7 linked regions of the Homo sapiens genome follow. The protein of the gene in region 7 purifies or fractionates together with the protein of the main gene of each other region. This does not show direct contact. Each region holds a gene or a part of one and is shown on either strand. Other genes may lie near its edges.

What was found.
Region 1: the proteins of ZBTB1 (region 7) and CHAF1B purify together in Homo sapiens (co-immunoprecipitation; one large-scale study listed by IntAct). This does not show direct contact.
Region 2: the proteins of ZBTB1 (region 7) and STK38 purify together in Homo sapiens (affinity purification with mass spectrometry, with the first as the bait; one study listed by BioGRID). This does not show direct contact.
Region 3: the proteins of ZBTB1 (region 7) and CCDC42 purify together in Homo sapiens (affinity purification with mass spectrometry, with the first as the bait; one study listed by BioGRID). This does not show direct contact.
Region 4: the proteins of ZBTB1 (region 7) and HNRNPR purify together in Homo sapiens (affinity purification with mass spectrometry, with the first as the bait; one study listed by BioGRID). This does not show direct contact.
Region 5: the proteins of ZBTB1 (region 7) and SPRR2E purify together in Homo sapiens (affinity purification with mass spectrometry, with the first as the bait; one study listed by BioGRID). This does not show direct contact.
Region 6: the proteins of ZBTB1 (region 7) and TESK2 purify together in Homo sapiens (affinity purification with mass spectrometry, with the first as the bait; one study listed by BioGRID). This does not show direct contact.

The regions. Positions count from the first base shown.
Region 1 is NC_000021.9:36,402,042-36,406,412, forward strand, and holds part of CHAF1B (chromatin assembly factor 1 subunit B), read left to right. Parts: intron 1-716; coding exon 717-810; intron 811-4,371. UniProt on the Homo sapiens protein: Acts as a component of the histone chaperone complex chromatin assembly factor 1 (CAF-1), which assembles histone octamers onto DNA during replication and repair.
Region 2 is NC_000006.12:36,540,759-36,545,129, reverse strand, and holds part of STK38 (serine/threonine-protein kinase 38), read left to right. Parts: exon of another isoform or gene 1-3,361; intron 3,362-4,340; exon of another isoform or gene 4,341-4,371. UniProt on the Homo sapiens protein: Serine/threonine-protein kinase that acts as a negative regulator of MAP3K1/2 signaling. Converts MAP3K2 from its phosphorylated form to its non-phosphorylated form and inhibits autophosphorylation of MAP3K2.
Region 3 is NC_000017.11:8,734,443-8,738,813, reverse strand, and holds part of CCDC42 (coiled-coil domain-containing protein 42), read left to right. Parts: intron 1-3,202; coding exon 3,203-3,424; intron 3,425-3,559; coding exon 3,560-3,718; intron 3,719-4,371. UniProt on the Homo sapiens protein: Essential for male fertility. Required for sperm development.
Region 4 is NC_000001.11:23,306,045-23,310,415, forward strand, and holds part of HNRNPR (heterogeneous nuclear ribonucleoprotein R), read right to left. Parts: 3' UTR 1-4,371. UniProt on the Homo sapiens protein: Component of ribonucleosomes, which are complexes of at least 20 other different heterogeneous nuclear ribonucleoproteins (hnRNP). hnRNP play an important role in processing of precursor mRNA in the nucleus.
Region 5 is NC_000001.11:153,092,065-153,096,270, forward strand, and holds SPRR2E (small proline-rich protein 2E), read right to left. Parts: upstream 2,463-4,206; 5' UTR 2,420-2,462; intron 1,707-2,419; 5' UTR 1,688-1,706; coding exon 1,469-1,687; 3' UTR 1,071-1,468; downstream 1-1,070. UniProt on the Homo sapiens protein: Cross-linked envelope protein of keratinocytes. It is a keratinocyte protein that first appears in the cell cytosol, but ultimately becomes cross-linked to membrane proteins by transglutaminase.
Region 6 is NC_000001.11:45,484,374-45,488,744, reverse strand, and holds part of TESK2 (dual specificity testis-specific protein kinase 2), read left to right. Parts: intron 1-4,371. UniProt on the Homo sapiens protein: Dual specificity protein kinase activity catalyzing autophosphorylation and phosphorylation of exogenous substrates on both serine/threonine and tyrosine residues. Phosphorylates cofilin at 'Ser-3'. May play an important role in spermatogenesis.
Region 7 is NC_000014.9:64,507,085-64,511,455, forward strand, and holds part of ZBTB1 (zinc finger and BTB domain-containing protein 1), read left to right. Parts: intron 1-4,164; exon of another isoform or gene 4,165-4,300; intron 4,301-4,371.

The sequences.
Region 1 (4,371 bases), on a different chromosome or scaffold from region 7:
ATGCTTGATGTTTATAAATAGTAGTAAAAACTGTCCCAGACAGGTGTTAAAGAAATGTTGTTTTAAAAGATTAATGATTACCAGTTTAATAATCCACTATTTTCTTTTTTTAAAGGGTGCATTTGTTAATAGCTGGATGTGGTGGCATGTGCCTGTAGTCCCAGGAGGCTGAGACGGGAGGATTGCTTTGAGCCCAGAAGTTCTAGGTTACAGCGACCTATGATTGCGCCACTGCACTCTAGCCTGGGTGACAGAGCGAGACTCTGTATCTAAAGAGTGCATTCAGTTGGAAATTCTAATGAATCCACACAGATAGAAAGCAGAGGTCTCCTGGTCATCTTCCCACTGTCTGCCAGTCTCAGGCCCCAGACATGCCACTATTGACCCTGTGGTTTGTGTTCTTAAGAGTTTTTAAAAATAATTTTAGAACCACATAAAACACACATATATACATATAGCTTTACCTAACAAAAATGTGTGGTCAGTTTTCATGAATGTTTACCCTTGCAGTGTTGTACAATTATTTGATTTGTAATGTGTTTCAGTTTCATTTATGATTATGTCAACAATAAATGACACTATGTAAAGAAAACCATAGGCACATATAGCAGTTGGGAAGCGTTTATTTGTGAGTGTAAAGATTTGGAAAAATGTTTAAGCTTTGTGTGTAGAAAACAAACAAAAAAAATAATAAAAATAAATTTTGTGTGCGACAGGCAAGAAGCTACCGGATGTTTCACGACGACAGCATGAAGTCTTTCTTCCGTAGACTGAGTTTCACTCCCGACGGATCTTTGCTTCTCACGCCAGGTGTGTTTCGTAGCTTTGGACTTAAAGGAATGATGGCCGAGTGGGGATGTCTGCTCCCGTTTTACGCTGCAGCTTATCAGCTCAGTGAATGCTGATTAGAGTGGGGGTCCCCGACTTACCTGCCCATTGGAACCTCCAGGAGAGCTTCAAAAAACACATTGGTGCCTATGTCCCATCCCTAGAGATTGTAGTGTATGTAATTGGTCTGGGTGGCCTGGCTTTTGGAATTTTAAGAAGATTTCCAAGTGATTGTAATGTGCAGAAAAGTTTGGGAGTAATGAGTTTAAAATGATAGGCATTTTCTCTTAGATAAATTTAACTTTTGGCTGGGCACAGTGGATCACACCTGTAATCCCAGCACTTTGGGAGGCTGAGGCGGGCGGATCACTTGAGGTCAAGAGTTCATGACCAGCCTGGCCAACATGGTGAAACACCCTCTCTATTAAAAATACAAAAATTAATGATGTGGTGGCGCATACCCTGTAATCCCAGCCACTTGGGAGACTGCGGCAGGAGAATCGCTTGAACCCAGGAGGCAGAGGGTGCAGTGAGCCGAGATCACACCACTGTACTCCAGCCTGGGCGACAGAGTGATATCTTATCTAAAAAAAAAAAAAAAAAAAAAAAAAGAAACTTTACTATTTAAACCCTTTCAATGAATGCTTTTTCATTCATTAACATGTGTATGGAAGCCATAGCGCTAAAGCCAAAGATAAAGCTCCTTTATTGTTTTTATTCTCCTCAATAAAGCGCATTTGTGACAGGATTAGACTCATGGACAAACTTGTGGAAGCAGCAGTGGTCAAAATCAAAAGGTCAGCCAAGTAGCAAGGACTAGATAGGTTTATTGTCCCTATGTCCCTAGGAAGGCAAGGGGCTCAGCCCAGCAAGATAAGGCTAGGCATTATTGTGGCCACAGTGTTCTCAGAGGAGAATGTCTGCTCATTGCCGTGGCTCCAGGACCATCCTGTGCATAGAGATGACAACATAGCCCAGGGTTGGGCCAAACGGGAGGGCACTGTCTTGGTTTGCCACTGAGTCCCATCCCAGCTGAGCCAGGGAGGGCCTGAGAAGGGCGTGAATCACACATGCAGCTGTGTGGGTGGGGCTTTAAAGAACACTGCGGAACATGTGCGAATGACACTTTGGCCCAAGAAGTCTCAGGACTAAGAATAAGTAGTTGTTTAGGTTATATTTACTAAAGTTAGTTATTAAAAGTTATTCACTAAACCCAGTAATAAATCCTTTTTTTTTTTTTTTTTTTTGAGACTGAGTTTTGCCCTGTTGCCCAGCTGGAGTGCAGTGGCACGATCTTGGCTCACCACTGCAGCCTCCGCCTCCCAGTTTCAAGCGATTCTCCTGCCTCAGCCTCCTGAGTAGCTGGGATTACAGGTGTGCGCCACCACTCCCAGCTAATTTTTGTATTTTTAGTAGAGACGGGGTTTCACCATGTTGGTCAGGCTGGTCTCAAACTCCTGACCTTGTGATCCGCCTGCCTTGGCCTCCGAAAGTGCTGGGATTACAGGCTTGAGCCACCACGCCCGGCCCTTTTTTTTTTTTTAAATTATTTATTTTATTTATTTATTAATTTATTTATTTTGAGATGGAGTTTCGCTCTTGTTACCCAGGCTGGAGTGCAATGGCACGATCTCGGCTCACAGCAACCTCCGCCTCCCGGGTTCAAGCCATTCTCCTGCCTCAGCCTCCGGAGTAGCTGGGATTACAGGCATGCGCCACCACGCCCAGCTAATTTTGTATTTTTAGTAGAGACGGGGTTTCTCCATGTTGGTCAGTCTGGTCTCGAACTCCGGACCTCAGGTGATCTGCCCACCTTGGCCTCCCAAAGTGCTGGGATTATAGGTGTGAGCCATTGCGCTGGCCTTTTTTTTTTTTTTTTTTTTTTTTTTTAAAAAGCAGAGTCTCGCTCTGTCACCCAGGCTGGAGTGCAGTGGCACCATCTTGGCTCACTGTAGCCTCCACCTCCTGGGTTCAAGCGATTCTCCTGCCTCAGCCTCCTGAGTAGCTGAGATTACAGGCGCCTGCCACCACAACCAGATAATTTTTGTATTTTTAGTAGAGATGGGGTTTCGCCATGTTGGCCAGGCTGGTCCCAAACTCCTGACCTCAGGTGATCTGCCCACCTTGGCCTCCCAAAGTGTTGGGATTACAGGTTACAGGTGTGAGCCACTGCGCCCAGCCCCAGTAGCAAATCCTTTACTATTTGGCCACTCTAAAAATATTTTCAATTAAAATCAAGTAGCAAATGGATGTCTGTTATCAACGTTATTGTTCTTTGTGGTGTTAGTAAGTGTGGGAAAAACAGGAAAATGAAATTACAAAGATTGGAAAAGAACAGATAAAAAACTGCAATAGGATTGTATTTCTAGAAAATCCAAGAGATTTTAAAAATAGTATTAGAATTTTTAAAATAATTTGATAAGATGGCTGGATATTATAAAATATATAAAAATTCCTATCTTTCGTCTATATTGGCAGTGAGTACTTAGAAATGGAAGGAGGAGAAATATTTCATTCAGAGTAGTGCAAAACCTGCAAAATACATAGAGTAAATTTATTTATTTATTTATTTTTTGAGACAGGGTCTCACTCTGTCACCCAGGCTGGAGTACAGTGGTGTGATCATGGCCCACTGCATCAGCCTTGATCTCCTGAGTTCAGGGAATCCTCCCACCTCAGCCTCCCTACTAGCTGGGACCACAGGCGTGTAGCACCATGCCTGGCTAATTTTCTTATTTTTTTGTAGAGACATGGTCTTGCTATGTTGCCCAGGCTGGTCTTAAACTCCTGGGCTCAAGCACCCCTTCCGCCTCGGCCTCCCAAAGAGCTGGGATTACAGGTGTGAGCCACCACACCCAGGCAGAAGTAAATTTAATGAGAAAGGGGCAGGACCTTTATGGAGAAGTCTAGAAGGTCTTACTGAAGGTTATAAAGCAAGTTCTGAACAAATGGAAAGATATGTCGTGTTCTAACAATTAACATACTAATTTCATTTCCAATTAGAATTGCATTAAAGTTTTTTTTTAATTGGATGAAATCTCAGCTTTGTTTAGTAGAATAAATGCTGAAGAATAGCCAAAGAAGTATTAAAAAAAAAACAGTGATACTTGGGAGGGCATTTGCCTCACCACATATCAGAAGATCCTATAACACTACTTTTAGCCAATCAATATGGTGTTGCTATAGGACCAAACAAATAGATTAGTGGACCAGAACACAGAATCCAGAAAAAGATCTCAGGATATAAGGCGATTTAATATATGACCTCAGGTGCTGTTCCAGTGGAAAAAAATCTATTATTTATTTGTAATTAATTGTATGTTACTTAAATAATTCTCAAGAGAATTAGACACTGAAGGCAGATAGGACAAGAGTATGTCATTAAGAAGGTTGGGAAGTGTTGAGATTGGACAAAGACCTATTCCTCTTTTTTTTGAGAGGGTTTCACCCTTGTCGCCCAGGCTTGAGAGCATTGGCGTGATCTTGGCTCACTGCAACCTCCATCTCCTGAGTTCAAGTGATTCTTCTGCCTCAGCCTCCCAA
Region 2 (4,371 bases), on a different chromosome or scaffold from region 7:
TTAGTAGAGACAGGCTTTCACCATGTTGGCCAAGCTAGTCTCCAACTCCTGACTTCAGGTGATCCACCTGCCTCAGCCTCCCAAAGTTCTGGGATTACAGGCATGAGCCACCGTGTCCGGCCATCTTTATTCTTTAGCTTTGTTGACAACTAAAAATCATTAACTTACTCAACTGCCTGTTATATGGAAGGCACTGTTTGCCTTAGGGTTAAATACTAGCAGATTGTTGTGTTGTGTTTGTTGTTGTTGTTGTTGTTTTTAAGACAGAGTCTTGCTCTGTCCCAGGCTGGCGTGCAGTGGCACAAGCCAAACTCACTGAAACCTCTGCCTCTCCAGCTCAAGCAATCCTCCCACCTCAGCCTCCTGAGTAGCTGGGACTACAGGTGTGTGCTACCACACCTGGCCAATTTTTTGTATTTTTTTGTAGCAACGGGGGTTTTGCCATGTTGCACAGGCTGGTTTCAAGCAATCTCCTACCTCTCCCTCCCAAAGTGCTGAGATTACAGGGGTGCACCAGTGCCCTGGCAAATTGTTACATTTTTATGTTGAAGTAATTTCAGTTGTTAAAATGTAACTACATATATGCAATTTCTTCAGGAATTTTCAGACAAGGAAGTACAAAACTCTCACTTGCTTTTGACATGTTTTTACATCTGGTTTTTAAATTTCTTCACCAAACACACTTAGAGTGCATGTGGTTTTCATTGTGGGTGGAGGGGGGGGTACAGGCTGACAAATAAGGAACCACACCCAAGCTTCACAAACCAAACAGAGGTTTTTTTTTTGTTGTTTTTGTTTTTTTTAATTCCTTTAGTGATACTCTAAAACATTTGAGTTTGCTTTGGTATTAGTCGAAACTTCCCCATAAAAAATAATGTGATATTTTATAGTAAGGTAGCTCTTAATGCAGTGTCTTAAATTTGTTTTTACTGATCTTTTTGGCACATGATGAATCAAAATGTTTGACTCTCAAGTAGAGTCTTAGTTTTGAATCTCTGCTCTGAAGGAATTATTTATGTGATTTTTGTCTGCGTATCTTTTTAAATAATTGCTTTTTAAATAATTTTAAGGCTTTTTTGAACAAGTGTTTTATAAGCCTTAGTTTAATCCACAAAACAATTTAAAAAGCTACTAAATATTAAGGGGGAAAACCTGAAAACTTTTCTTAAAATGCACTATCTTTGAAAATGGTCCTTGGCTGGGTGCGGTGGCTTATGCCTCTAATCCCAGCACTTTGGGAGGCCCAGGCAGTCAGATCATCTGAGGTCAGGAGTTCAAGACTAGCCTGGCCAACATAGTGAAACCCCGTCTCTACTAAAAACTAGCTGGGGGTGATGGCATGTCCCTGTAGTCCCAACTACTTGGGAGGCTGAGGCAGGAGAATCGCTTGAACCCAGGAGGCGGAGGTTGCAGTGCACCGAGATTGTGCCATTGCACTCCAGCCTGGGCGACAGAGTGAGACTCCATTTCCAAAAAAAGAAAAATGGCCCTTTGACTCTCATGATTCTTTTTTGCTGCAGCTGTGGGGGGTAGTAGAGACAGGGTCTTGCTATGTTACCCAGGCTGGTCTTGAATTCCTGGACTCATGAACTCCTGGGCTCAAATGATCTCTCTACCTCACCCTCCCAAAGTGATGGGATTACAGGCATGAACCACAGTGTTCAGCCTCTCCTAATTTTTACTCAGCTTTATATTGGGATGAAGAGACAGAGAAGTAGATCATATGAGAGGTAGGAATGGTAAGAATAAAATATTGAGCACTATTGGCCGGGCATGGTGGCTCACGCCTGTAATCCCAGCACTTTGGGAGGCTGAGATGGGCAGATCATGAGGTCAGGAGATCGAGACCATCCTGGCTAACACGGTGAAACCCTGTCTCTACTAAAAAATAGAAAAAATTAGCCGGGCGTGGTGGCGGGTGCCTGTAGTCCCAGCTACTCGGGAGGCTGAGGCAGGAGAATGGCACGAACCTGGGAGGCGGAGCTTGGAGTGAGCCGAGATCGCGCCACTGCACTCCAGCCTGGGCGACAGAGCGAGACTTCGTCTCAAAAAAAAAAAAATTGAGCGCTATTGCCAATGCTGGAGCAAGTCAATGTTAGTGAACAATTTGGCCAAGTGTGATAATACAGGTTAGCTGAAATATCTGGAGGAAAACAAGATTTTATTTTATTTATTTATTTTTTTTGAGACGGAATCTTGCTCTGTCACCCAGGTGGAGTGCAGTGGCATGATCTCGGCTCACTGCAACCTCTGCCTCCCGGGTTCAAGCGATTCTCCTGTCTCAGCCTCCCGAGTAGCTGGGATTATAGGCGCCTGCCACCACGCACAGCTAATTTTTGTGTTTTTAGTAGAGACGGGGTTTCACTCTGTTGGTCAGGCTAGTCTCCCAACTCCTGACCTCAGATGATTCGCCTGCCTTGGCCTCCCAAAGTGCTGGGATTACAGGCGTGAGCCACCGCGCTCAGCCGATTTTATTATTTATTTTTGAGACTGAGTCTCGCTGTGTAGCCCAGTCTGGAGTGCAGTGGCGCTATCTCGGCTCACTGCAACCTCTGCTTCCCAATTCAAGCAATTCTGCCTCAGCCTTTGGAGTAGCTAGGACTACTGGTGTGTGCCACACTCCTGGTTGAAAACAATATTTTAAATTTAGGAAAAAAATATTCTATAACTTATCTAAACACATTGGTGGTGTTTTTTTCTTGTGTAAAATGAGGAAATTAAGATCTCTTGTTTTTAAGGTATTGCTGCTTCTACCACTAGAATCGTGATTCAGGTTTTTTGTCATATTGTTCCCTTTATTTTAAGACTTAAAACTTTATTTTAACTTGTAAATTCAAATAAACGGCAAACATTTATCAAATACCTTAAGGCTGTGTCAGAGCATATATGTATCAGATTACCATTTTTAATCATAGATTTTTCTTTTAACTGTGGATAAACTTAAAAAGTTATTGGTAACAGTATATGCTTATGGAAGAAAATATAGAAAAACATGGGCTGGGTGCAGTGGCTCATGCCTGCAATCCCAGCACTTTGGGAGGCCAAGTTGGGTGGATCACTTGAGGTCAAGAGTTTGAGACCAGCCTGACCAGTGTGGTGAAACCCCGTCTCTACTGAAAATACAAAAAAAAAAATTAGCTGGGCACAGTGGCTGGTGCCTGTCATCTTAACTACTTGGGAGGCTGAGACACGAGAATCGCTTGAACCTGGGAGGCAGAGGTTCCAGTGAGCTGAGATTGAATCATTGTACTCCAGCATGGGCGACAGAGTGAGACTCCATCTCAAAAAAAAAAAAAAAGAAAAAGAAAAACATGGAAAAAGCACAAGCAAGAATAACATTTTCTATTCCCACTACCTACAGGTAAGCCACTAATAACATTTTGATGATATGTTTCTAATAATTATGTGCATATACAGTAAACACATAAAGAAAATTGAGATCGTGATATACATTCTGCTTTGTAATGTGTTCTGTTGACTTAGAGTGGAAACATTTCCTCTGACATTAACTATTTGGACATATTTTAATTGTCTGCACATTATTTTATTGAAGGGCTTTTTCATACTGAATTAATTCTATTGTGTATATTCAAGTTATCCCTAATTTCCCTTTGTGATTACAATGCTGCATTGCACCTCCTTGTGATGAATTTTTATGGGTCTTTGATTTCTTCAAGGTAGATTTTTAGATGGCAAAGAATTGTACTGTATGCATACTGTATATTTTTTTTTAGGTCTCACTATGTTGTCCAGGCTAGTCTTAAACTTGGGGACTCAAGCAGACCTCTGTCTTGGCCTCCCAGGAAGCCAGGATTACAGGCGTGTGGTTTACTATATATTCTTAATTTATCTATATGGTATTGTGATCTTGTTCTCTTTTTAAAAATGCAATATGCACTTGCACTAATATGTTTTAAAGATATATTTGTGGGCTGGGCACGGTGGCTCACGCCTGTTATCCTCAGCACTTTGGGAGGCTGAGATGGGCGGATCATGAGGTCAGGAGTTTTGAGACCATCCTGGTTAACATGGTGAAATCCCGTCTCTACTAAAAATACAAAAAATTAGCCCGGTGTATTGGTGGGCGCCTGTAGTCCCAGCTGCTTGGGAGGCTGAGGCAGGAGAATGGCGTGAACCTGGGAGGTGTAGGTTGCAATGAGCGGAGATCGCGCCACTGCACTCCAGCCTGGGCGACAGAGCGAGACTCCTTCTCAAAAACAAACAAATAAATAAATAAATAAAGATATATTTGTGTGGGCCAGGCGCGGTGGCTCACAGTTGTAATCCCAGCACTTTGGGAGGCCGAGGTGGCCCCGTCTCTACTAAAAATACAAAATTAGCCAGGTGTGGTGGCGCATGCCTGTAATCCCA
Region 3 (4,371 bases), on a different chromosome or scaffold from region 7:
CGTTTTGTAACTTTTTATTTGAGTATTCTGCTTTCAAAAATTCTCAAATAGCCAGGTGCGGTGGCTCACGCTTGTAATCCCAGCACTTTGGGGAGGCCGAGGTGGGCAGATCACGAGGTCAGGAGTTCGAGACCACCCTGGCCAACACGGTGAAACCCTGTCTCTACTAAAAATACAAAAATTAGCTGGGCGTGATGGCGGGTGCCTGTAATCTCAGCTACTCCGGAGGCTGAGGCAGGAGAATTGCTTGAACCCGGGAGGCAGAGGTTGCAGTGAGCCAAGATCATGCCATTGCACTCCAGCCTGGGTGACAGAGCTAGACTCCGTCTCAAAAAAAAAAAAAAAAAAATCTCAAATCATGCTTATTATTTTGTCACATTTAATGTTTTGTAACTTTTTATACGGAATTTTTTAAGCATACACAAAAGTAAAGACAATAGTCTATTGAACACCTGTTGCTCATTACCTGATTCTAATAATGATTAATTCATAGTCACATCCCCCACACTTTCCCACCTCTGCCATTTTGAAGCAAACAATATATTTTCATCCATTTGCGTCTCTCTGCAGTATGTATCTCTAAGAGATGAGAGCTCTTTTTAAAATAACTACACCATTGTCACACCTACTATACAATTGATAGTAATTCCTTAACATCAAATATCAGTATCATTTATTGCACAAAATGGGTCAAGCGTGGTGGCTCATGCCTGTAATCTCAGTGCTTTGGGAGGCTGAGGTGGGAGGATCACTTGAGCCCAGGAGTTCAAGACCAGCCTGGGCAACAAAGTGAGACCCCCCCCAAATCTGCAAAAAATTAAAAAATAAAAATCAGTCAGGAATGGTGGCACACACATGTGGTCCCATCTACTTGGGAGGCTGAGGCAGGAGGACTGCGTGAGCCCAGGAGGTCAGGGCTGCAGTGAGCTGTGTTTATGCCACTGTAGTCCAGCCTGAACAATAGAGTGAGACCCTGTCTTTTAAGACAAATTATTGCACGGATGCTTTTTGTACAGTTGGTTTGTTCCAATGAGAGTCCATATAAGGTCCTCACACTGCCCTTAGTTGGTATGCTTCTTAAGCCAGACACAAAAGAGGTTATATCGTATGATTCCATTGATGTGTTTAAAAACAGGTAAAATTAATCTTTATTGATAGAAGTCAGAATATTGGTTTCCTCACTGGTCGGGGGAAGACACTCACTAGCAACCCTTCCTCATTTATTTGCTAGAATACTACCATAAAGAAAAGGACTTCATAAAGAGATCCTTTCCTTCATCCACCATTTGATTACTATGTGGGTCTCGCAGAGAAAGTTTGTTAAATGCTTTATTTAGTTTTCAGAATAATGAATTTGTTCTCTAGCACTGACCTGTAATGTTTCTAGTATCATTGTGAACTGATGGATTTTTAACATATTTGATATGTTTTAATCCTTTGCACTTATTCTTACTAATGTTCAAATCATCTCATCTTTGGGCAGTGGGTGGCTCTTCGATTTGGCACCTAAATCCTTTTGACATCAGCATTAAGTTTAGAGGTGTGTTCCTAGTAGCTCTGATGTGGTCCATTTATTTGAACTGTGGTACACTGTTGCACTGTGTGCCAGATGAACTTTCAGAAATGCACACGTGAATTGTCTGTTTCTTAAAATCCTTCAATGGATAAAGTCCACACTCCTTCCCAAGGTTTACTGAGCTCGCTTGCTTGCTTGCTTTTCTTTTTTTCTTTTTCTTTCTTTCCTTTTTCTTTTCTTTTTTCTTTCCCTTCCTTCCTCCCTCCCTCTTCTTTTCTTTTTTTCTTTTCCTTCCTTTCTCCCTCCCTCCCTCTCTCTCTTTCTTCTTCTTCTTCTTCCTTCCTCCTTCCCTCTTTCTTTCTTCTTCTGCTTTCTTCTTCCTTTCTTCTTCTTCTCAGTCTCTCCCTCCCCATCTTGAACTCAGGCTACCTTCAGCATCCTGAACATACAACCCCCTATTCCATTCATCTTTGCCCAGGCTGTCTCCTTCACCTGTAGCACTGCCTCACCTCCCTACACCTGCTTTTGCTAGCTATCTTCTATTTATATACCTCTCATCTCATTTCAGCCACACTTTCTCCCATGAAACCTTTTCTGGCTGTTCCTACCTCTTTCCGTGCTGGGTTGGGTGGCCCTTCCCCAAAGAGGCATATTTGGGGAAAGGCCAGCAGGGCAGTTCCCAGGACACGCATCCATCACTGGAGATGTCACGAGATGGAGAAGGTGCTCGGGAAGTTTCCCCTGGGCGGCTGAAAGGCATGCTTTGATAAGCCCCTAGGAAGGCAACTTGGTATCACAGAACTGGTGTTCATGCTGCCTTCTAAAGAGCGTGGGTTTCATGGCTTCTGTTCCACTGAGTGGGACCTGAGGGTTAGGGCCAGAGTGGCATGGTTCTGGACCAGGCTGGGGGAGGTGAGCTGAGTCTGGCAGGCCACCTGCCCCACCAGCACCCTCTCTATCCCTGCTTCTCCCTCAGTAAATGAACAAATACCAGAGATCACCAACGTGAAGGCTTTCCCAGAGTCCCCTCCAGCCCTATCCCCCAGTCATAGATAGGGCTTATCTTGCTGTTGTAACTGACTGTTTACTTGTCTGTCTGTCCTCCCTCCATGCCACCCCCCAAGCTGTAAGCTTCCTAAGAGCAGAATCTGGTTTTCCTAACTCCTGCTATTTCCCTAGCATTTAGCATAGCTCCTGGCTTGTAAGTGGTTCCTGGTACAATCTTGTTGAATAGGAAATTCTTGCCTTGGAAGACATTGCAAAATGCCTTCCATCAGCGATTATCAACCCTGGCTGTGCCTAGAGCCACCAGGGGACCTTTTGCAAAATTCAGATGCCAGAGACCACAGAAGACTTGTTTATTCATCTGAATCTCTGGGGGTGGAGACTGGCAGGTGTCCTTTTTAAAGCCCCTACAGGTGATTCTCACATGCAGTTAAAGTCGAAAATCCCTAGCCCAGTTGTGCATCCCCCTGCCCAACAAATGGACCGTGGCCCGTACAAACCCAGGAGAAGCAGGCAGCGGAACCCCAGTGTCCCTCACAGCCTCTGGCCGTGACCCTGGCCAAGGGCCTGCCTGCCCAGGTGTCCAGGTGTCCAGGCATCCAGGCTGGAGGTTGGCAGGACTGGGTGGCTCCCTCAGGCCCCAGGGGCTGGCTGTGCATTGACCTGAGCCCCTGACCACAGTTCGAGGAGATCCATGAGGTGATTGCACGCTACAAGACGCTGGTGAGCATGCGCCACGACCTCATGCAGTCTGCGCAGGAAGGCCAGGAGAAGATTGAGCGCGCCAAGGCCCGGCTGGCGCGCTACATGGAGGAAAAGGATGATGAGATCCTGCAGCAAAACAATGAGCTGGCAAGGCTGCAGATGCGCTTTGACCGTGCCCGCAGCAATGTCATCTTCTGGGTGAGGGGCCCGGGGCGGGCCGGGGGCTCCCAGGCACTGGGTGAGTGCGGGCCCTGAGCATACACACACACACATACACACAAACACACACACACCACATGCTGTGCTCATGCCCCGTCCTTATCCACTCTCCAGGAATCTCGCTGGGCGCACATCCAGAACACCGCAGCCAAGAAGACCCTCCTGCTTGGCACCATTAAGATGGCCACGCTGAACCTCTTCCAGATCGTGAGCAAGCACCTGAAGGAGGTGACTGAGGTGGCACTGGAGGACACCCACAAGCAGCTGGACATGGTAGGAGGAGGGGACAGGCACTGGGCCCGTGGGGTCGGCTGGGCCGAGGAGGTTGCCAGTTGGTTGGGTGGAAGAATGAACCTGACAGAGAAGCAGAGCAGGGACTCTCAAAATTTAACAACATCAGGATCACCTGGGAGGGTGAGGAGTATTACTGGGCCCCACCCGCAGAGTCTCTGACTCAGTGGATCTGAGATGAGAACTCATGAATTTACATTTTCAGCAAGTTCCCAAGTGACGCTGCTGGTTCGGGTTCCATACTTTGAGAACCATTGCATTAGCACCGAAACCCTTTTAGCCCCAGTCTACAGAGCAGTAGCAGGGACCCACTACTGAATCCATTAGTTGTGCAAAACAGCCTCATTAAATTCTAGTGAGATACTGTGGCTTGCTGAAGGCTTGAGCTTGAGGCCCACACTTCGTTAAAAAGAGAAATTGGGGCCAGGCACGGTGGCTCATGCCTGTAATCCCAGCACTTTGGGAGGCCTAGGTGGGTGGATCACCTGAGGTTGGGAGTTCCAGGCCAGCCTCAAAAAAACAAACAAACAAAAAACAAAACAGCAATTGACTTAGAGGCACTTTCCCTACTTTTCCAAAAAAAAAAAAAAAGTGAAATTCATGAAATATACACAGCTAGGAAAAAGGAGTTCCCT
Region 4 (4,371 bases), on a different chromosome or scaffold from region 7:
TGCATTATATGTTAATCTATCCAACAAAATATAGAAAATATAATACTAGACTGAAATGACAGTTAAAGCAAATTTATTGTCTCTCCAAGAGACTTTTTAAGATTATAAGGTGTCTATTTTGCTCACTTAAAATATACCCTGAGTATTTCATTACTTCATACTTGCAGGCCTTTCCTGCTGATCTGCTACCAATTTAAAAGTAAGTGAAGTGTTATTATATGTTCCTATTAAGAACAAAATAATTTAATATTAAAGTCCTATTTTTCTACAAGGCTGACATAATTGCCCACTTATAGGATATGGGCATTCTCCCACACTTAATGCCCCACTACTGATAAAAAAAAAAATAGGAAAAAAAAGTTCTTACCAACAATTCCACTGGTTATCGTCCCCAGCGAACCCCACCTAGCAAGTCGACATCATGACATGTCAGGTCAGGGCAGCCTCAACCTCGCTTCCCTGATAGTCAGGTGATAAAAGGAAGGAGTTAAAACAGGAAAAGTACACTTGCAGATTTCTGGATAACATCTGAAAATGATTAAAAAAACAAAAAAACAAAACAAAACAAAACAAAACCAGAGCTTCTGGTAACCTCTAAATAAAAAAGTATATATATGTACTTTTATTTAAAGAAAAAAAACTTTTCTAGAAGGATTAACAATAATTAACTTCAAATTAAATATTATTAAATTGCTGACCAATACATTGTATATGCAATATTTTTAAAGCTTGGTGTTTGCGTTTGAAAATTAAGACCTAATCAACAAACTTCTAATATAAAAGTAAACATGTCTGGCTAATGGATTTGTTATTCTGGATTCTCCAGTCAGTCATCCAATCTACTGGTTTCCTCAGAACAACTCCACCCCTAAGTTAACAGAAGCTCCCATTCTTAGAGAAACATAAACACACTTATAAATCCAGTGTAGTCTTTCTATAAGGCTTTTTCTTAGTTGCTCACTTAAGAGATTCCACATAATAATTGTCCACATAATAATGGACTACACTAATATTAACTTTGGTTAGTTTTCTTTAAGAATATTGGTAGCTCAGTATAATAAAATTATCTTTGAAAAATCAAAATGACAAGTTTTAACATATTTAGAAGCCTTGATAATTGACAAGCAATAGCCTTATAGCAAGTATTTACTGGAAGGGTTTGGTTTTACAAATGCACAATTAATAAAACGTAGGTATGATTATATTCAAATGGGCAGGAGGCAAATGATGTAATGAGTTTCAAGAATAATATTATATGGCTTTATGCTAGGAGTGAAATTTTATGTCCCTTCTCTTTTAGAATTTAAAATATATAATTTATTTTTTTGCATGCTGACCTTTTTAAAAAGAATTCATCTCCTAAGTCAGATTTCAAAGTCAAAAGAGAGAAAAATTATCTCCTACTATCAGAAAGCATTGGGCTTTCTTATGCAGAATAACCCCAGTAACTAAAAAAACCTGAAAAACAATTATGCTGAACTCATTTTAAAAAAACTACAGAATCATAACTCATTTTCCTTATCTTTTCACCAAATAAACCTGCATTTATTAGAAATCTGGCAACTTATTAGAACTTTTTTGCTCTTAAAAATTAAAATACCTTCATATAAATACATACATTTAAGCAACTGCTATAAATGAGTGATCAAATAAAAATTAGTATTCCATTATGGGGAGGGGCATATTTGTATCGGTCTCACCAGGGTACCTACAAAGAATAGCTCTATACCTCAATATATTTCCCAACACACACTTTACTGTAACAGGCTCATAAATAAAGCCAAATCAATTAGCTTGGGGAACAAAAAAGATGGAAAGACAGGAGAGCAGGAAACCAAATTCCTTACACTCATAATTTGTACCTAATTTAAAAAAAAAAAAATGCCAATCTAGAATAAAGACCTCCCTCAACTGACATTTTTCAGGTTTATATATTACACTGTTAGATTTATTTATGTGAAAAGTTGAGCTCTGAATCTATTTTCTCTGAATGCTGCTACAGTGTTAATTTACAAGACATGAAAGAAGAAAAGCTCTTGAGTTTTAATGTTTATAGGATTATGCTTTACAATTTAAAATAGCCACAAAACCTATAAACCAAATATTAGAGGGTACCTCTGCAAATATATTTTTAATTAGTGAAAAGGACAGAGGAGGAGGTGGCCACTTTAAAATTCAAAATATAATTTGCAATTAAAGGAAAGGATTTTGACATGGAACCCAAGTTTTAATCTTATGTTTTTGCGAGGGTTTGTTTTCTCAGAATCATTTCTATCCCCATTCTTAGCATTCTTTATGACAACTTTGTAGCTTGTAACACCTAATTAAGAAATACAAACAACTCAAATTTTATTTGTAGATTTTGTTCTTTCCAGGAAAAAAATCAGGGTTTTACTTAAGTCTAATTAGATGTATAGTTACAACTTCAAATTGTACTTTCAAAGTTTAAAAGCAGCATTTAAAGAATGTTTGGTGTCTTTACTTGCATACATGGGCATAAGAAAAACAACTGGATCTGTCTTACCAAAGAAATACCCATGTTAACTCAAAACTATCATACAACAGACCATAATTCCTTTATCAGTTTCCAAAAAACTAAAATATCAATAAGGTCTGTTAAATGACTATACTGTGTAATGAGTGTACTTTGAAAAAGAAATGAAATATATTGACTTTCATCAGTAAATAGTAATCTTAAATTGAAATGAAAAGAAGCCATGAAACCCAATATGATCTAGCCAAGATTACACGGAATTAAGTGGCTTATGATTTTGAAATCTAATATTCCTATCACAAAGACACCAAACAGGAACAAAACACAGAATAATGGTGTATCCATTTTAATTATTCCCCAATGGCTTCTGATATTTTTATCATTATAAAAACATTTGAGAACCACGTAAGAATAAGATGGAGGGGAAAACTTAATAGTAATTTGAAAGTGATTCACTTTTCTGTACCGTAAAGCTTAGATTCTTTTGTTCCTCTCATTCTCAAGCAAAAAAGTCATTAGAATAAATCAGAATTTCTAAAGGAAATAGGGAAATAGATGTTATGTCTTGGCCAACAAAAAATTTGGGCATCAGGGATAGCAGATAAATAAAAATAAACGAAGTGTTAACAGAAAGTCAAAGGTATTACTACTGGATATTTTTAAGCCTCTCTTACAAGGCATGAATGTTTCTCAAAGCAAATTTACATAGTAATAGGAAATTATATTCCTAAACCAGTAACTGAAATGGTAGTCACGATCATTTTCACTAAAACTAAAGTCCGCAGTGCAATTGACGCCACAGTACTAACAATTTTCCCTGTATGTACATTCACTTATCCAGCAAATAAGGTCTTCAGTCACAAATTATCCCTTATAAAGAATGTGGGTCAAAATAAATTGCAGTCTGCTTTCCCAGCCACATTTTATTTGTTTTAATGCAAATTATCCAATGCCTGCAAGAATGCTCAAAAGTCTATGAACCTGTTTTTTTTTTTTTAATAAAAGATAAAATTTCAAAATTAGAAGAGACTATGAGAGAACACCAATCAATGAAAGTGCTAATTGGAATAAATACTTGAATTTAGACTAATCCTCAGTCTAATATCCACAACACATGTTGGAATAAACAAGAAATTTTGCATGAATTTGATCACTCACATAGGCAGTTATACTTTGAAAACAATATTCCTTGCAAGGATTACGAATAAAATAATGTTTTAGGACACAATTGAATTTGAAATAGGTAATGTTTTGAATAGATTTTTTAGTTTTATTGAAATCTTACATGAACAAGAAATTGGAAATACAATCACATCAAAGAACAAATTGTCACGGCTTTTGACGTTTAAGCCAAACAAATTTTGTAGGGCAGATTTCAAAAAGGTGTGAAGTTATAACAATTTAAAAACACAGTTAACCTACTTCTAGGAATGCAAAACATACAATCATAGGTTATTTTCAATACAAGAAAACTTAAATTTGTTTGCTTTAATTTCTTAAAACTACTAAGACAAAGCACTAGCTTGTATTTTTATTTACAGCATACTCCATACTCCTATGTAATCTATCCCAAATCCAAAAAAATGAAACTGTCCAAAACCAAAGGTTCTGCAAAATCATGATTTAACAGTGTGCCCAGCTTGTTTTGAAGCTAAAATGAAGCCTGAAACGATAAAAGCATTGTAATCCCCAGAATAAGGGAACTCTGCAAGCCCAATAATGTCCAAGAGCATTTATGAAAAGAGGAAAAATAAAAAGACTTGAGTATATACACAATAGTGATTTCTTCAGCCCAATACAAATGGCAGCAAAATGCTACTTAAAGATGAAACAGTTAAGCCAATTTTTTTTTTTGAAGAATGTAGATCTAGAGCCAA
Region 5 (4,206 bases), on a different chromosome or scaffold from region 7:
AGATAGACAAATATTGTGTGTTTTCACTCATATGTAGGAGCTGCAAAATTTGATCTATAAATGTAGAGAGTAGAATGATAGATACCAGAAGCAGGGAAGGGAGTTCAGGGGATGGAGAATGATAAAACACTGGCTAATGAGTACAAACATAGAGATATATAAAAGGAGTAAGTTTTAATATTTGATAGCAGAGTAGGGTGACTACAGTTTACAACAACATATTGTATTTTTCAAAATAGCTAGAAGAGAGGAATTAAAATGTTTCCAACAAAGACAGAAATGATAAATGCTCAAGGTGATGAATGCCCTAAATTTCCTAATATCCCGGCTTTATCATTACACATTTGATCCATGTAACAATATATCACACGTATCCCAAAAATGTGTATAAGTATTAGGAACCAATAAAAACAGAGTCTTCGATAGCATTAGGAGTTATACCTAATGCTAAATGACGAGTTAATGGGTGCAGCATACCAATATGGCACATGTATACATATGTAACAACCCTGCATATTGTGCACACGTACCCTAAAACTTAAAGTATAATAATAATAAAATTTAAAAAAAAACAGAGTCTTCTTATTTTTTATATTAGTTACATCCAAGCCACTCTATTGCTGGAACAAATATGGTAGTGGTTGTCATGGGGAGTGATGATGATGATGATGATGATGGTGGTGGTGGTGGTAATGGTGGAAACAATGATGATATGTTACTGCCAATAAACTTCTAAAATGACAGCTAATTATGTGTCAGGCATTGCGACAACAAAATTTCAGATAGTAATTAGATTTATCCCAAGACTAGTTTGTTAAGTAAATGTTATTTTGGTCGCTTTGCAATAAAGAGATTGACATTCACAGAAGTTGAATAATATGTTCCTCAAATCAATCAAACACTAATTAAGGAAAATAAAAGTGGTTTAAATAATACAGACATAATCTTTGATATGACCCAAATTTTAAGATTCTGACTGTGGTTGAAAGAAAGGTGGAAATAAACCCAAATGATTATATAATTTTACTAATAAAGCAGATTTGAAAAGAAACAAAAGATCCATTCACAAATACGTATGCAAAGATATTTTATTCAGGGAGTGAAAGAAAAGTGACAATTGCACAGGTGTTAGAAGCCCATGCCCAGGTGACAGACAGACACAGAAAACATCAACAGCATTTTTTGATGGTTCCCAGGGACAGAGCTGCTGGTCCTTCTTCCAAAGCTCTGGGAACTGACACTGCTGAGGACTTCCTTTCTCAGTCTCCACCTGGACAGTGGCAATATGGCAGCCTCAGAAAGGAAACCTTTTGCTATCAGGGATCATCATGGGCAGATCACTGGCTAAGAGGAAAGAAGCTAACTGTGTATCCATGGTAGGCTTTGATGAGAAGATGCAGGTGAAGCTGTGGAACAAGGTGAGCCAATTATCCTTATCCTTTCATGCTCCTGATGAATTCTGAAGCTGTTACTTGCTCTTGGGTGGACACTTTGGCTGGCAGGGTGGGGAAGGTGTCACAGGAGGACATTTTTGCTGGCACTGCTGAGGTGGGCAGGGCTGTGGACACTTTGGTGGTGGGCAGGGCTCAGGGCACTTCGGGGGTGGACATGGCTCTGGGCACTTTGGCGTGGGGCACACAGGAGGTGGCTGGCAGGGCTGCTTGCACTGCTGCTGTTGATAAGACATCCTGCTGGAGTCTCAGAATCTGAAAGAAATGATATGACAGTGTTCACAGGAATGGACTCCTCCAGAGAGAGAAGCCAAAGCTTATGTAATACCATGGCATATTATTTCTCCAATCTCCAAAAATTTATTTAAACTCTTAGCTCTCTTTTCATGACTTCCTGTCTTCTCCTTTCCACTTTAGCAAGTTGTTTCATCAGCCCTAGGAATTCCTGCCTTTCCTCATACAATTTTTCCAAAGAAAACATCTCTATAATAAAGAAGCAAGCATGTTATTCCATGAAAATGACATCTTCAGGAAAGGCAGTCACAAGTTCAGACCTCCTGGGCAATCTCACAAGCTATTCCTATCATCATTATCTGTTGTAAAGCACCAGTGGGTTGACTTGGGCACAGAGCAAGGGCTGTTCAGGAAGAAGTACTGGCTCTCACACCTGCTAAGACACAAACCTTTGAAAAGGATACCAGGAAAATATGGAAAAGAGAAAAATACTTCATCCCTTTCTTCAAACCAAAACTTTCCTATTAACTTCTCTGTCCATATGGACATATAATTGTACATTTTTTAAAAATCTGTGTAAAACACTGTATCATGTAATCTAATCCTGTAGTTCCATCAACTAAGTACCATCAAACCTATGATCACAGGTTTGGATCCACCAAACTTGCTGGATTCAGGTTAAATTCAACACTTCAGGGCACAAAGAACAGAGGAACTCAAGGAAGCAGACTCACCAGGTTCTCCAAAGCAGATCAGTGCTCAAGTACCAGGAGTTTAGGAGTTGTAGAGCAGAGAACCTCTTTATAGGGCCTGCTACCCCACCCAGCAGGAAGTGGAACTACCCAAAACTGGGCTGGCCCAGCAATGTCCCAACTAAAATGCAAATCTATCCATAACTGGCATGACAGGGATTCTCAAACTGGGAAATATCCTGTTCTGGGATCTTTCCACTGGATTAAGTGCCCTGACTCACTGAGGCCCTGCCTTAGATCTCAGTTTCAGTGACAGCAAAGAGGGACTTGGGGGATTCTCTAACTGGTGGTCAAGGGCTCTCTTTCTTGATTGGGGGCAATGAATGCTTCCTGTCTTACACATTCCCTAAATCATAAAACTTCCTGCCCTGATCCACTTTAGCTGAATGCCATATTGTTTGTACATGAACCCATCTCCACCTCTACTTTCCTTGTACAATTTGCCAATGTGCTAGAAGGAAGGAGAGACCTAACAAAGGCCTGAGTTCTGGCCCCAGATTTTTTTGCTAAGCTGTATGACCACAGCCAGGTCAACTCTCCTCCCTGGAACTGTAAACAGAAGAGCATCTTATTTACCTCTGGGTTTGGAGGCACTGACCACATTGTGCCATCTGTTGATCCTGTTCAAGCCTGAAATTTTCTGCTCCACCTCTTTCTCTTGCAGAAACCCAGATTTTACCTATATTCCTTTCCTCTTTGAGGGTTGTCTTCTACAACCCTCAAAGAGGCACTTGTGTCCCAAGATAGATACCAGAGTGAGATCCAGTCTCTCCAGTACATTTGCCACTGCTACCATCAAGGGAGTGTACTACAGGCTTTTCATTTGTAAAACTGTACTCTTATTCACCACATTAAGAAAATGGAGAAAAGGGAACCAAAGTTACAAGCATTCATTTTAAATCTATGTATTGAACCATGCCTGTATGTTTCCCTGTGAACATCATATAGAGAACAAGATGCATAGACTCACAGTATCTTATGTAAATAATTAGAAGTTTTCCAGAATAGAGGTCAGAGCACTTAAAGTCTGAAATCTAGGGGAAAATATAAACTCAGTGTGATCCTATGTGTTTGCTTTCTCTACCTCTCTTTCCAAACAGGTTTTAGTCTTTGAAAAATGGTATTTTTTAATTTGTTTGTATGTTCTTCCATTGTCTTTTCCAAAAGCTCTCTAGCCCCACAACCTGCTAGATTATCAACTCACACCCCAATGTATACCTCTCATCTGTTCATTTTAGTACACATTGTTCACTCGATACGTATGTTGTCAATGTGAATGTCTTTCACATCTTTTTAAAACTCTTCCTGCAATCAATGGGGCTTACTAAACATTGTATATTAAACATTTAAAACAGTGCTGCTGGAGCTTTCTTATCTGGGCTAATGATCAGGAAGCTTTCCAAGAATGTGATTTTATAATTGGAGAAGAAGAAGGAAGAGGAAGATAAGGAAAAAGAGGAAGAGGAGTGACTCAAATTCTTTGGAGCACTCACCAGCTATGCTCCAGATAGAGCAAGAACACTGAATCAACCCAGCATCACATCTCTCAGTTAAGCAGGTTAGGTTTCCAGATCTGCAATTGCTCCAGTCTTTAAGGAAGAGCTTTTGGCCAAGATCACTGTGGCCAGATGCTGCAGAAATACAACTATCATGTCAGCACCTTTGCGCCAGGTGTTTACAAATAGTGTTCTCACCAAATGCTTCCTATAGACTATTACACATGCCAAGCACAGTGGGTAAAGTAAACAGACTTCACTCAATAGGTCACC
Region 6 (4,371 bases), on a different chromosome or scaffold from region 7:
CTCCAGAGTTTGGTTGTGAAGGAGAGCTGGTTCTAGTGAAACTCATCTTTATTGAGAATATACTATATGCCAGGTACATAAAGATGCTTTATAGATCACAACAGCCTTGTGGTTAACATGTCAGTATCCCTCTTTTACAGTGGAGAGTACTGTGGACAAGGATTTGAGCAGGTATGTCTAGTTCTGAAACCTGTGTTCTTTCCATTATGGCACATGTGTGTTTTTCTTTTCAGTACAGGTGAAACAGTTCTGTAAGTGAGGGGAAGGTTCATCTAGGAAATATGTCAGTCAGGCATTTTGCCCTTTGACACCAAAAGGATAGTAGTGAAAATGGATAATGATGTGGTAGAAGGGAAGGAAAGTGAGGGAGTTTAACAGATGGCCTTATCGATGTGATTACTTATCTGTGGAGAAGTCAGTTTGGAGACTGAAGACACTATGGTGAGTTTCTGACTTGAGTATTATGGCCATGGGAATCTTAAATGGAAAATGAAAGAGAATAAAGATTTAACAAAAAAAATTGTTGGCCAGGTGTAGTGGCTCACTTTGGATTTTTTAATCCCAGCACTTTGGGAGGCTGAAGTGGGAGGATCGCTTGAGCCCAGGAGTTTGCGACCAGCATGGGCAACATTGTGAGACCTCGTCTCTACAGAAAATTAAAAAATTAGCTGGGTGTGGTGGTGCATGCCTGTTGTCCCAGCTACTGGAGAGGCTGAGGTGGGAGGATTGCTTGAACCGGGAGGCTGAGGTTGCAGGGAGTCAAGATTGTACCACTGCACTCCAGCCTGGGGGAAAGAAAAAAAAAAAAGCAAAAAAAAACTCAGGAGCTAAAAGATTGTTGACCACATTGAGGGTCCTACTAGTTAGAAATAATATATTTGTAATGGGGCCCAGGAGCATGGATTTTACACTTTCTTCAACAGCCTAAGAATAGTAGGACAAAAAAGATGGTTGGATTGATTCAAAATGGAAACTTGCAGGACAGAAAGATAAAATGGGAAGCAACTTTACACTGCTATTGATAGTGTAGGAGATATGTTTCATTCCAAGGGACCAAGCTGGGAGTTATAAGAAGCAAAATCTAGAGGGAGGCTGGTGTACTTAGAGAATAAAAAGACAATCAGAAATGTGGTTGAAGACCAGATTTTGTAAGAAATATATAATTGGACAGCCCAGAGTTCATTATTTCAAGGTAAAGACAAAAACTGGCTTAACTGTCTCAATGCTGTTGAAGGGGAATGGAGGTGTAGGTTATTGAAGTAGTGGGAGATTAGGGGGCTGTGTTGAATATGTCATCAATATGAATGTCACAGTTGTCCAGCATGATAGCAGGAGATTGAGCAGAGGAGATAGTAAGTCCTATAGGTGGGCCTGCTCACCAAGGAGGGACCCAGAGTTGGATTGGTGGTTCCTTGGCACTTGTTGAAAAGTAGTACCAAATGGTACAGATGTTTGTATATGAATTAATGGTGATATCCTCAGATACTTGATGCCCTGGATGTATGATGTGTTATTCTCTCTTACAGATATATGTTTGGGATAGACCCTCAAACACAAAAAATCCTTTGTAAGCTTGACATATGATGGGCTTTGATTCTGTTTAAAATATATGTGCTGGCTGGGTGCGGTTGCTCACACCTGTAATCCCAGCACTTTGGGAGGCCAAGGCGGGTGGATCACTTGAGGTCAGGAGTTCGAGACTAGCCTGACCAACATGGAGAAACCCTGTCTCTACTGAAAAAAAAAATACAAAAATTAGCTGGGCGTGGTGGTGCATGCATGTAATCCCAGCTACTTGGGAGGCTGAGGCAGGAGAATCGCTTGAACCCGGGTGGTGGAGGTTGCGGTTAGCCGAGATCGGGCCACTGCACTCCAGCCTGGGCAACAAGAGCGAAAGTCCGTCTCAAAAAAAAAAAATGTATATATGTGTGTGTGTGTGTGTGTGTGTGTGTGTGTGTGTGTATGCTGGGAGGCTAGGGACTCTCCACCTCAGGATCCTCAGTAACATTTTTTTATGGTTTTAGTTAATTGTGTGTGTGTGCGTTTGTTTTTTTTTTTAATTAATTTTTTTTTATGGGGTCTTGCTCTGTCACCCAGGCTGGAGTGCAGTGGCAAGATCTCGGCTCACTGCAAGCTCCGCTTCCCAGGTTCACACCATTCTCCTGCCCCTCAGCCTCCTGAGTAGCTGGGATTACAGGCGAGGGCCACCATGCAGGGCTAATTTTTGTATTTTTAGTAGAGATGGGGTTTCACCATGTTGGCCAGGCTGGTCTCAAAAGGTTTTAGTTAATTGTAAAAAGAAAATTACACATTTAAATATGCTCATCCCGGACTTATTTTGAGGAGAAAACTGACTTGCTTTTATGCTTTCTTCCCTGTATGAAAGTATTTATACATATATTCTTAGTGTCATACATTTCATTTTGTTTTGCAAAAAGAATGTAGTGTTGGAATTTGAAACCTATGGTAAAGGCATTTATGGGAATTTCATCTCCTTCTAGTAGATGAAGCCCAATTATTACATTGTATTGTGTGGGTGATGGTGAATGTTTTGACCCAACAATGGCTATTATACTATTTACAAAGTCATCATATGGAGATGACTTCAGTGTAGTCTCACTAGTGTTATTTTCCCTGAACAATCACAGGCAGTGGCTGTTTCAGAGAAAAGCCTGGTTGTAATAAGTTTTATGTCTTCCATTCCTGAAAATTTCCAAAAGGCAGTGTGATAAAAGGAAAAGAACATTAGGAAAACCTTAGTTGTATTCAACTCTGTTGTTATTAACTATATGATGGTTAATATAAAGGCAAATTACTTATCTTTTGTGAGCTTTAGTTTTTTTTTTTAAGATACATTTAATCTTTGAATAGATAATACATTCAACTGGTTATTAAATGTAAACTTTTTTAATATATAAATTTAGGGCTGGGTGCGGTGGCTCATGCCTGTAATCCCAGCACTTTGGGAGGCTGAGGCAGGTGGATCACTTGAGGTCAGGAGTTCGAGACCAGCCTGGCCAAGATGGTGAAACCCCCTTCTCTACTAAAAATATGAAACATTAGCTGGGTGAGGTGGCCTGCGCCTGCTATCTCAGCTACTTGGGAGGCTGAGGCAGGAGAATCACTTCTACCCAGGAAGTGGAGGTTGCAGTGAGCCGAGATCATGCCACTGTACTGCAGTTTAGGCGACAGAGTGAGACTCCGTCTCAAAAAAAAAAAAATAAAATAAAAAATAAATTTATATAACAGTGAAAAGTCGGCTGGGCGCGGTGGCTCATGCCTGTAATCCCAGCACTTTGGGAGGCCGAGGCGGGCGGATCACGAGGTCCGGAGATCTAGACCATCCTGACTAACACGGTGAAACCCCGTCTCTACTAAAAATACAAAAAATTAGCAGGGCGTGGTGGCACATGTATGTCGTCCCAGCTACTCAGGAGGCGGAGGCAGGAGAAGGGCGTGAACCCGGGAGGTGGAGCTTCAGTGAGCCGAGATCGCGCCACTGCACTCCAGCGTGGGCGACAGAGCGAGACTCCATCTCAAAAAAAAACAAAAAACAAAAAACAAAACAGTGAAAAATCTTACTTCCATCTCTGTTCTTTATTAACCTGGTTCCATGCCCTCTCCCAAACACTTTGAATAGTCTCTTTATATTCTTTTAGACTTTATTTTTTATTTTTAATTTAATTTGATTTAATTAATTAATTTATTTATTTTGAGACGGAGTCTCGCTCTGTTGCCCAGGCTGGAGTGCAGTGGCGCGATCTCGGCTCACTGCAAGCTCCGCCTCCCGGGTTCACGCCATTCTCCTGCCTCGGCCTCCCGAGTAGCTGGGACTACAGGCGCCCGCCACCAGGCCCGGCTAATTTTTTGTATTTTTAGTAGAGACAGGGTTTCACTATGTTAGCCAGGATGGTCTCGATCTCCTGACCTTGTGATCTACCCGCCTCGGCCTCCCAAAGTGCTGGGATTACAGACTTGGGCCACCGCGCCCGGCCCTTTATTTTTTATTTTTGAGACAAGAGTCTCACTCTGTCGCCCAGGCTGGTGTGCAGTGGCGCAGTCTCGGCTTTCTGCAACTTCCGCCTTCCGGGTTGAAGCGATTCTCCAGCCTCAGCCTCCTGAGTAGCTGAGTAGCCGTGCACCACCACGCCCGGCTAATTTTTTAATTTTTAGTAGACACGTGGTTTCACCGTGTTGGCCAGGCTAGACTTGAACTCCTGACCTCAAGTGATCTGCCCGCCTCAGCCTCCCAAAGTGCTGGGATTACAGGCATGAGCCACCGCGTTCGGCCTCTTTTAGACTTTCTTTAGGCGAATGCTTACAAATAAGAATATATGGCTGGGCGTGGTGGCTCACGCCTGTAACTCCAGC
Region 7 (4,371 bases):
AAAAGCACTAAGCCTTTGGTGCAAAGGAGAGGAAACTATTTGGTATAGAAATACAGAAAAATTTCCATAGATTTTTGTTAATAAGCTGCAATCTGTTGTCTTCCCAAAAAAAATGAGGTATATTTGAGAAACATCTTCTTGAGAGGTCACTTTGGTCTCTATAGAATGTTTTCTCCTGACATTTTCTTCTGTGCTAGTATCTCATGCTAAAATGGTGAAATTATTTTTTCTCATATTCTTATGTGAACCAAATTAAGGGTTACTCGTGTCTATTTTTTCTCAAAATGGAAATGTTTTTTATTATAAAATCCATGCTCTTTGAAAAATTCAGCCTGTATTGAAGTACATAAAATACAAAAATGAAAGTCATTTTGACTCCCACTCCCCAGAGATAATCACCATGTACAGTTAATTCCTTGTTTAAAACGAGAGAAGGCAACATTTGATCACAGCTGTGTGTGCCTCACTCTGCCTGGGGATGGCCTGTGGTGATTCATGGACTCATGTTCTCTGTTCACATTACTCAGGTTGGTAAGAATTGCCAGGTAGAGGAAAGGGGAGTGTTTTGCATTGGGCTGATTTAAAATTATTTGATTAACTGGGCTGCTATTTTAGGTTTGTCCTTATTAAATACTTACTGTATCATGGTGGGCTATTTTTCATACTTTGTTCATGTTAATGTTGTTGCCCAGCCTCTGATGGATTGATTTACAGCAGCCAAACACATGAAAACAAAAGCAAACCCTCACCTTTATAGAGAGTTTCATAATTTATAATTAGGAAGGAGTGGGTATACTTGCCATGAAGACCACTGCCAATATATCCCTGTGCTGATATGGGATGGGGTTCCTCTTGATCAGCACCAAAGATTGCATGCTGAACATATGGAAAGGAAATTGGACGAAAGAAGGGTCAATGACCGCTGTTTTCAGATGTGGCATGGAAGAGACTGATACTGGGGAGGAAGCGGCAGGGTCTCACTCCTTAGCCATGTGTATTTAAGAAGAATGAACTGTGAAGAAGTTGATGATGATCTAAAAACAGAGCCCCAAAATAGTACATAGAAAGTTAATTACAACATTGGTTATTTGAGAGTGTTGGGGACGTGGGTGGTTTTTATACTACTCTGTCTTTGAATTTAAAATAGTTTTCAAAATAAAATTTGAAGATTAAAGAATTAACCAGATTTTCTTTTGTCTATATGAGATGCATGCAGTCGTTTTTAGAGATGAGTTCCATCCCCACTTTGAATCTGAAGTATTAGAAGAGGCATGCTCTGGTGGACAGTGGGGAGTTAGCAGATGGAAGGGGATTTAGGGAAGGGACTGGACATTCTTCCTGCAAGATGGAGCAGTAAGAGAATGATGAGAGCTTTTAGATTCATGAAAAAGGTGACTCTAGGAGGCTTAGAATGTTCCAAAGGGGCACTTCAGCTAATAGTCATATTCAGAAGAGTGTTGTCTGGTTTACACAAACTGAAACTTAGGGCTTTGAATCAAGAGTCTCAGCTTCTACTTACAAGATAAGCAGTTTTGGGGAAGTCAGCCACTGAACCTGTTTCTTCATTTGCAAAATGAGGATAATAAAAATACCTATCTCAGGGTGGTTGTGAGATCAGTTGTATAATGTATGGGAAAATGCTTTAAATTTTAATTTTAATTTTAATTTCCAACCACTATATAAAAGTTGCCATGATTGAAATAAACAAAAAATTGATAAGCAAAATAAAACTTACCTGTTTAAACATTTATTCATTCAAAAACTCATCAAGTATCAACTAAATGTCAGACATTCAGTAATGACTGAGATACTGCCCTGATGTCAAGGAGCTTGCAGTAAAGCAGGGGAGCCAAATAATTGCAATATCTGCCTTAAGTGTGGTAACAGAGCATCACAGTTGGGATGATGCATTATTGGTACCATATTGTTGTATGTATAGGCTGTTTTGGCAGCACAGAAGAGGCATCTGCCTCACCCTAAGATCAGAAAAAACTTCCCAAAGAGGCCAGGCACAATGTCTCTCACCTGTAATCCCAGCACCTTGGGAGGCCTAGGCAGGCGGATTGTTTGATCTCAGGAGTTTGAGACCAGCCTGGCCAACATGGCGAAACCCTGTCTCTACAAACAATACAAAAGTTAGCTGGGCGTGGTGCCGCATGCCTGTAGTCCCAGCTATTCGAGAGACTGAGGTGGGAGGAACGCTTGAGCCTGGAAGGGCGGAGGTTGCAGTGAGCCGAAATTGCCCCATTGCACTCCAGCCTGGATGACAGAGCCAGACCCTGTCTCAAAAAAAAGAAAAGAAAAAAGAAGTCCCAAACAGAGTGAGCTAGACATTGAAAAGGTTCTAAGCAAAGGAACAGCATGTGTGAAATGGCAAGGCTTTTGGTGTGTTAGGTTATTTGGGATCGGGGGAATCTTAAAGCTTAAAAATGGAGTTAAGTTTCTTAGAATGAACATGCATTTTATGATTTTTTAAAATTGGTTTCATTTTGTTGAATTTCAATTATATGATTGTGATGTTTTCAGGATTTTGGTTTGAATTAAACAAAACTGGAGCCACAAAATTGGAAACAATACAATTTTTTTTAAAATGTGTAGGATCTGGCCGGGTGTGTGGTGGCTCACGCTTGTAATCCCAGCACTTTGGGAGGCCAAGGCAGGCGGATCACGAGGTCAGGAGATTGAGACCATCCTGGCTAACATGGTGAAACCCCGTCTCTACTAAAAATACAAAAAAAAAAAATTGGCCGGGCGTGGTGGTGGGCGCCTGTAGTCCCAGCTACTCTGGAGGCTGAGGCAGGAGAATGGCGTGAACCTGGGAGGCGGAGCTTGCAGTGAGCCGAGATTGTGCCACTGCACTCCAGCCTGGGTGACAGAGCGAGACTCCGTCTCAATTAAAAAAAAAAAAAAAAGTGTAGGATCTGCTCAAAGAAGGAAACTGGGTAATCCCTCCCATCATCATAGAGCTGTCTCACCAGTTATTCATTCAGTAACACTTACTGAATACTTAATATTCCAGAGAAATGAAAAAGCCAAAGTCCTCGCCTTAAAGTTGCTCACAATCTCATGGGGGAGACCAACACATAATTATAACCAATTCTTATTTAGCACTTACTCCATGAGAGATATACTTAACAATAATTCTTCAGAGGTAGAAAGGATTACCATCCCTTCTTAGAGAATTGAAGCACAAATTGACTAAGCAACCTTCTCAAGGTCACACACTTAATAAGTGGCAGAGCCAGAATTTAAACCCAGGCAGTCTGGTTAGTTTGTGCTTTAACACCTACTTTATGTAGCTGTTCTGATTATTAAAATACAGTGTAAAAAGTGCAAAATAAAGAGGTAATACACAATGAGATCAAAACCTAAAATAGTGGGAGAGGAAGGTGTTACAGAGGCTTTCTGCAGGAGGTGATAAACTGATTTTTAAATGATATCTGGGAGGTTCAGACCCAAAGAACCAATCGGCATGAGTAAAACTGCAGGGGAAGTAAGAAATTTATGAAGTATACTGGATGTGTGTGGAGGAGGGTGAAGGTGGTGATGAGCAGTTTTATGTTGCTTGAACATGAAGTTTGAAGCAGGCAGTAACTAAACATGTAAGACTAGATGGGTGGGCATGGAGGGCTTTGTATGCCTCAATAATGATTTTATACTTTAGTCTGAAGATATGTGAGGGGAACCATGGTAGAATAGTGTGATATGATTTTTCTTCTTCATGAATCATCTTCAAAACAGCATTGCTCTGGGAAGAAAAAGATTACCTGAGAGTGAAGGATTTGAGAGACTGGTTGAGCCTATTTTAATAACTCAGGAGTGATAACAGAGGCCTTGCAAGAGCAGGAAAGGTAGGGATGGAGTAGATGGGCAGATTTGAGAAATATTTAATGGGAAAATTGGCAACACTTAATGGTTGATTATGAGGGAGAAGTTATAGGTAGCTCCCAAGTAGTCTAGGTGATTGGTACATAGTGGTGGCAGCTGAGACAAAATACAGGGAGGGGCATTTTTAAGTGGGTTCCAGACAAAATCTGAGTCCACAGAATTAGTACTTTGAAATAGAAGTCCTACAAAACGAACCCTAAGAATATGAATGCCATGTGCAATAAGGGATTTCCTGGTGAAGCGTTTTTAGCTGAGAAAAGCCTACTGTTTACACAGTGCCCTCTGGTGGTCAGAAGATGCTGTGCTGTCTCGTTAGGATGAATGGATTAAAATGTACTTTTCCTCCTCTGCTTCTGGAGAGGGAGAGAGGAATATTCCAGAAGCCACTGTGTTCCTTCTGCTTTCTGTGTGGGTAAGTTCATTTCTTAGAATATAATGCAACTGAACTACAGGAACATCTCACTTATTTGTAAGTTATTTGGT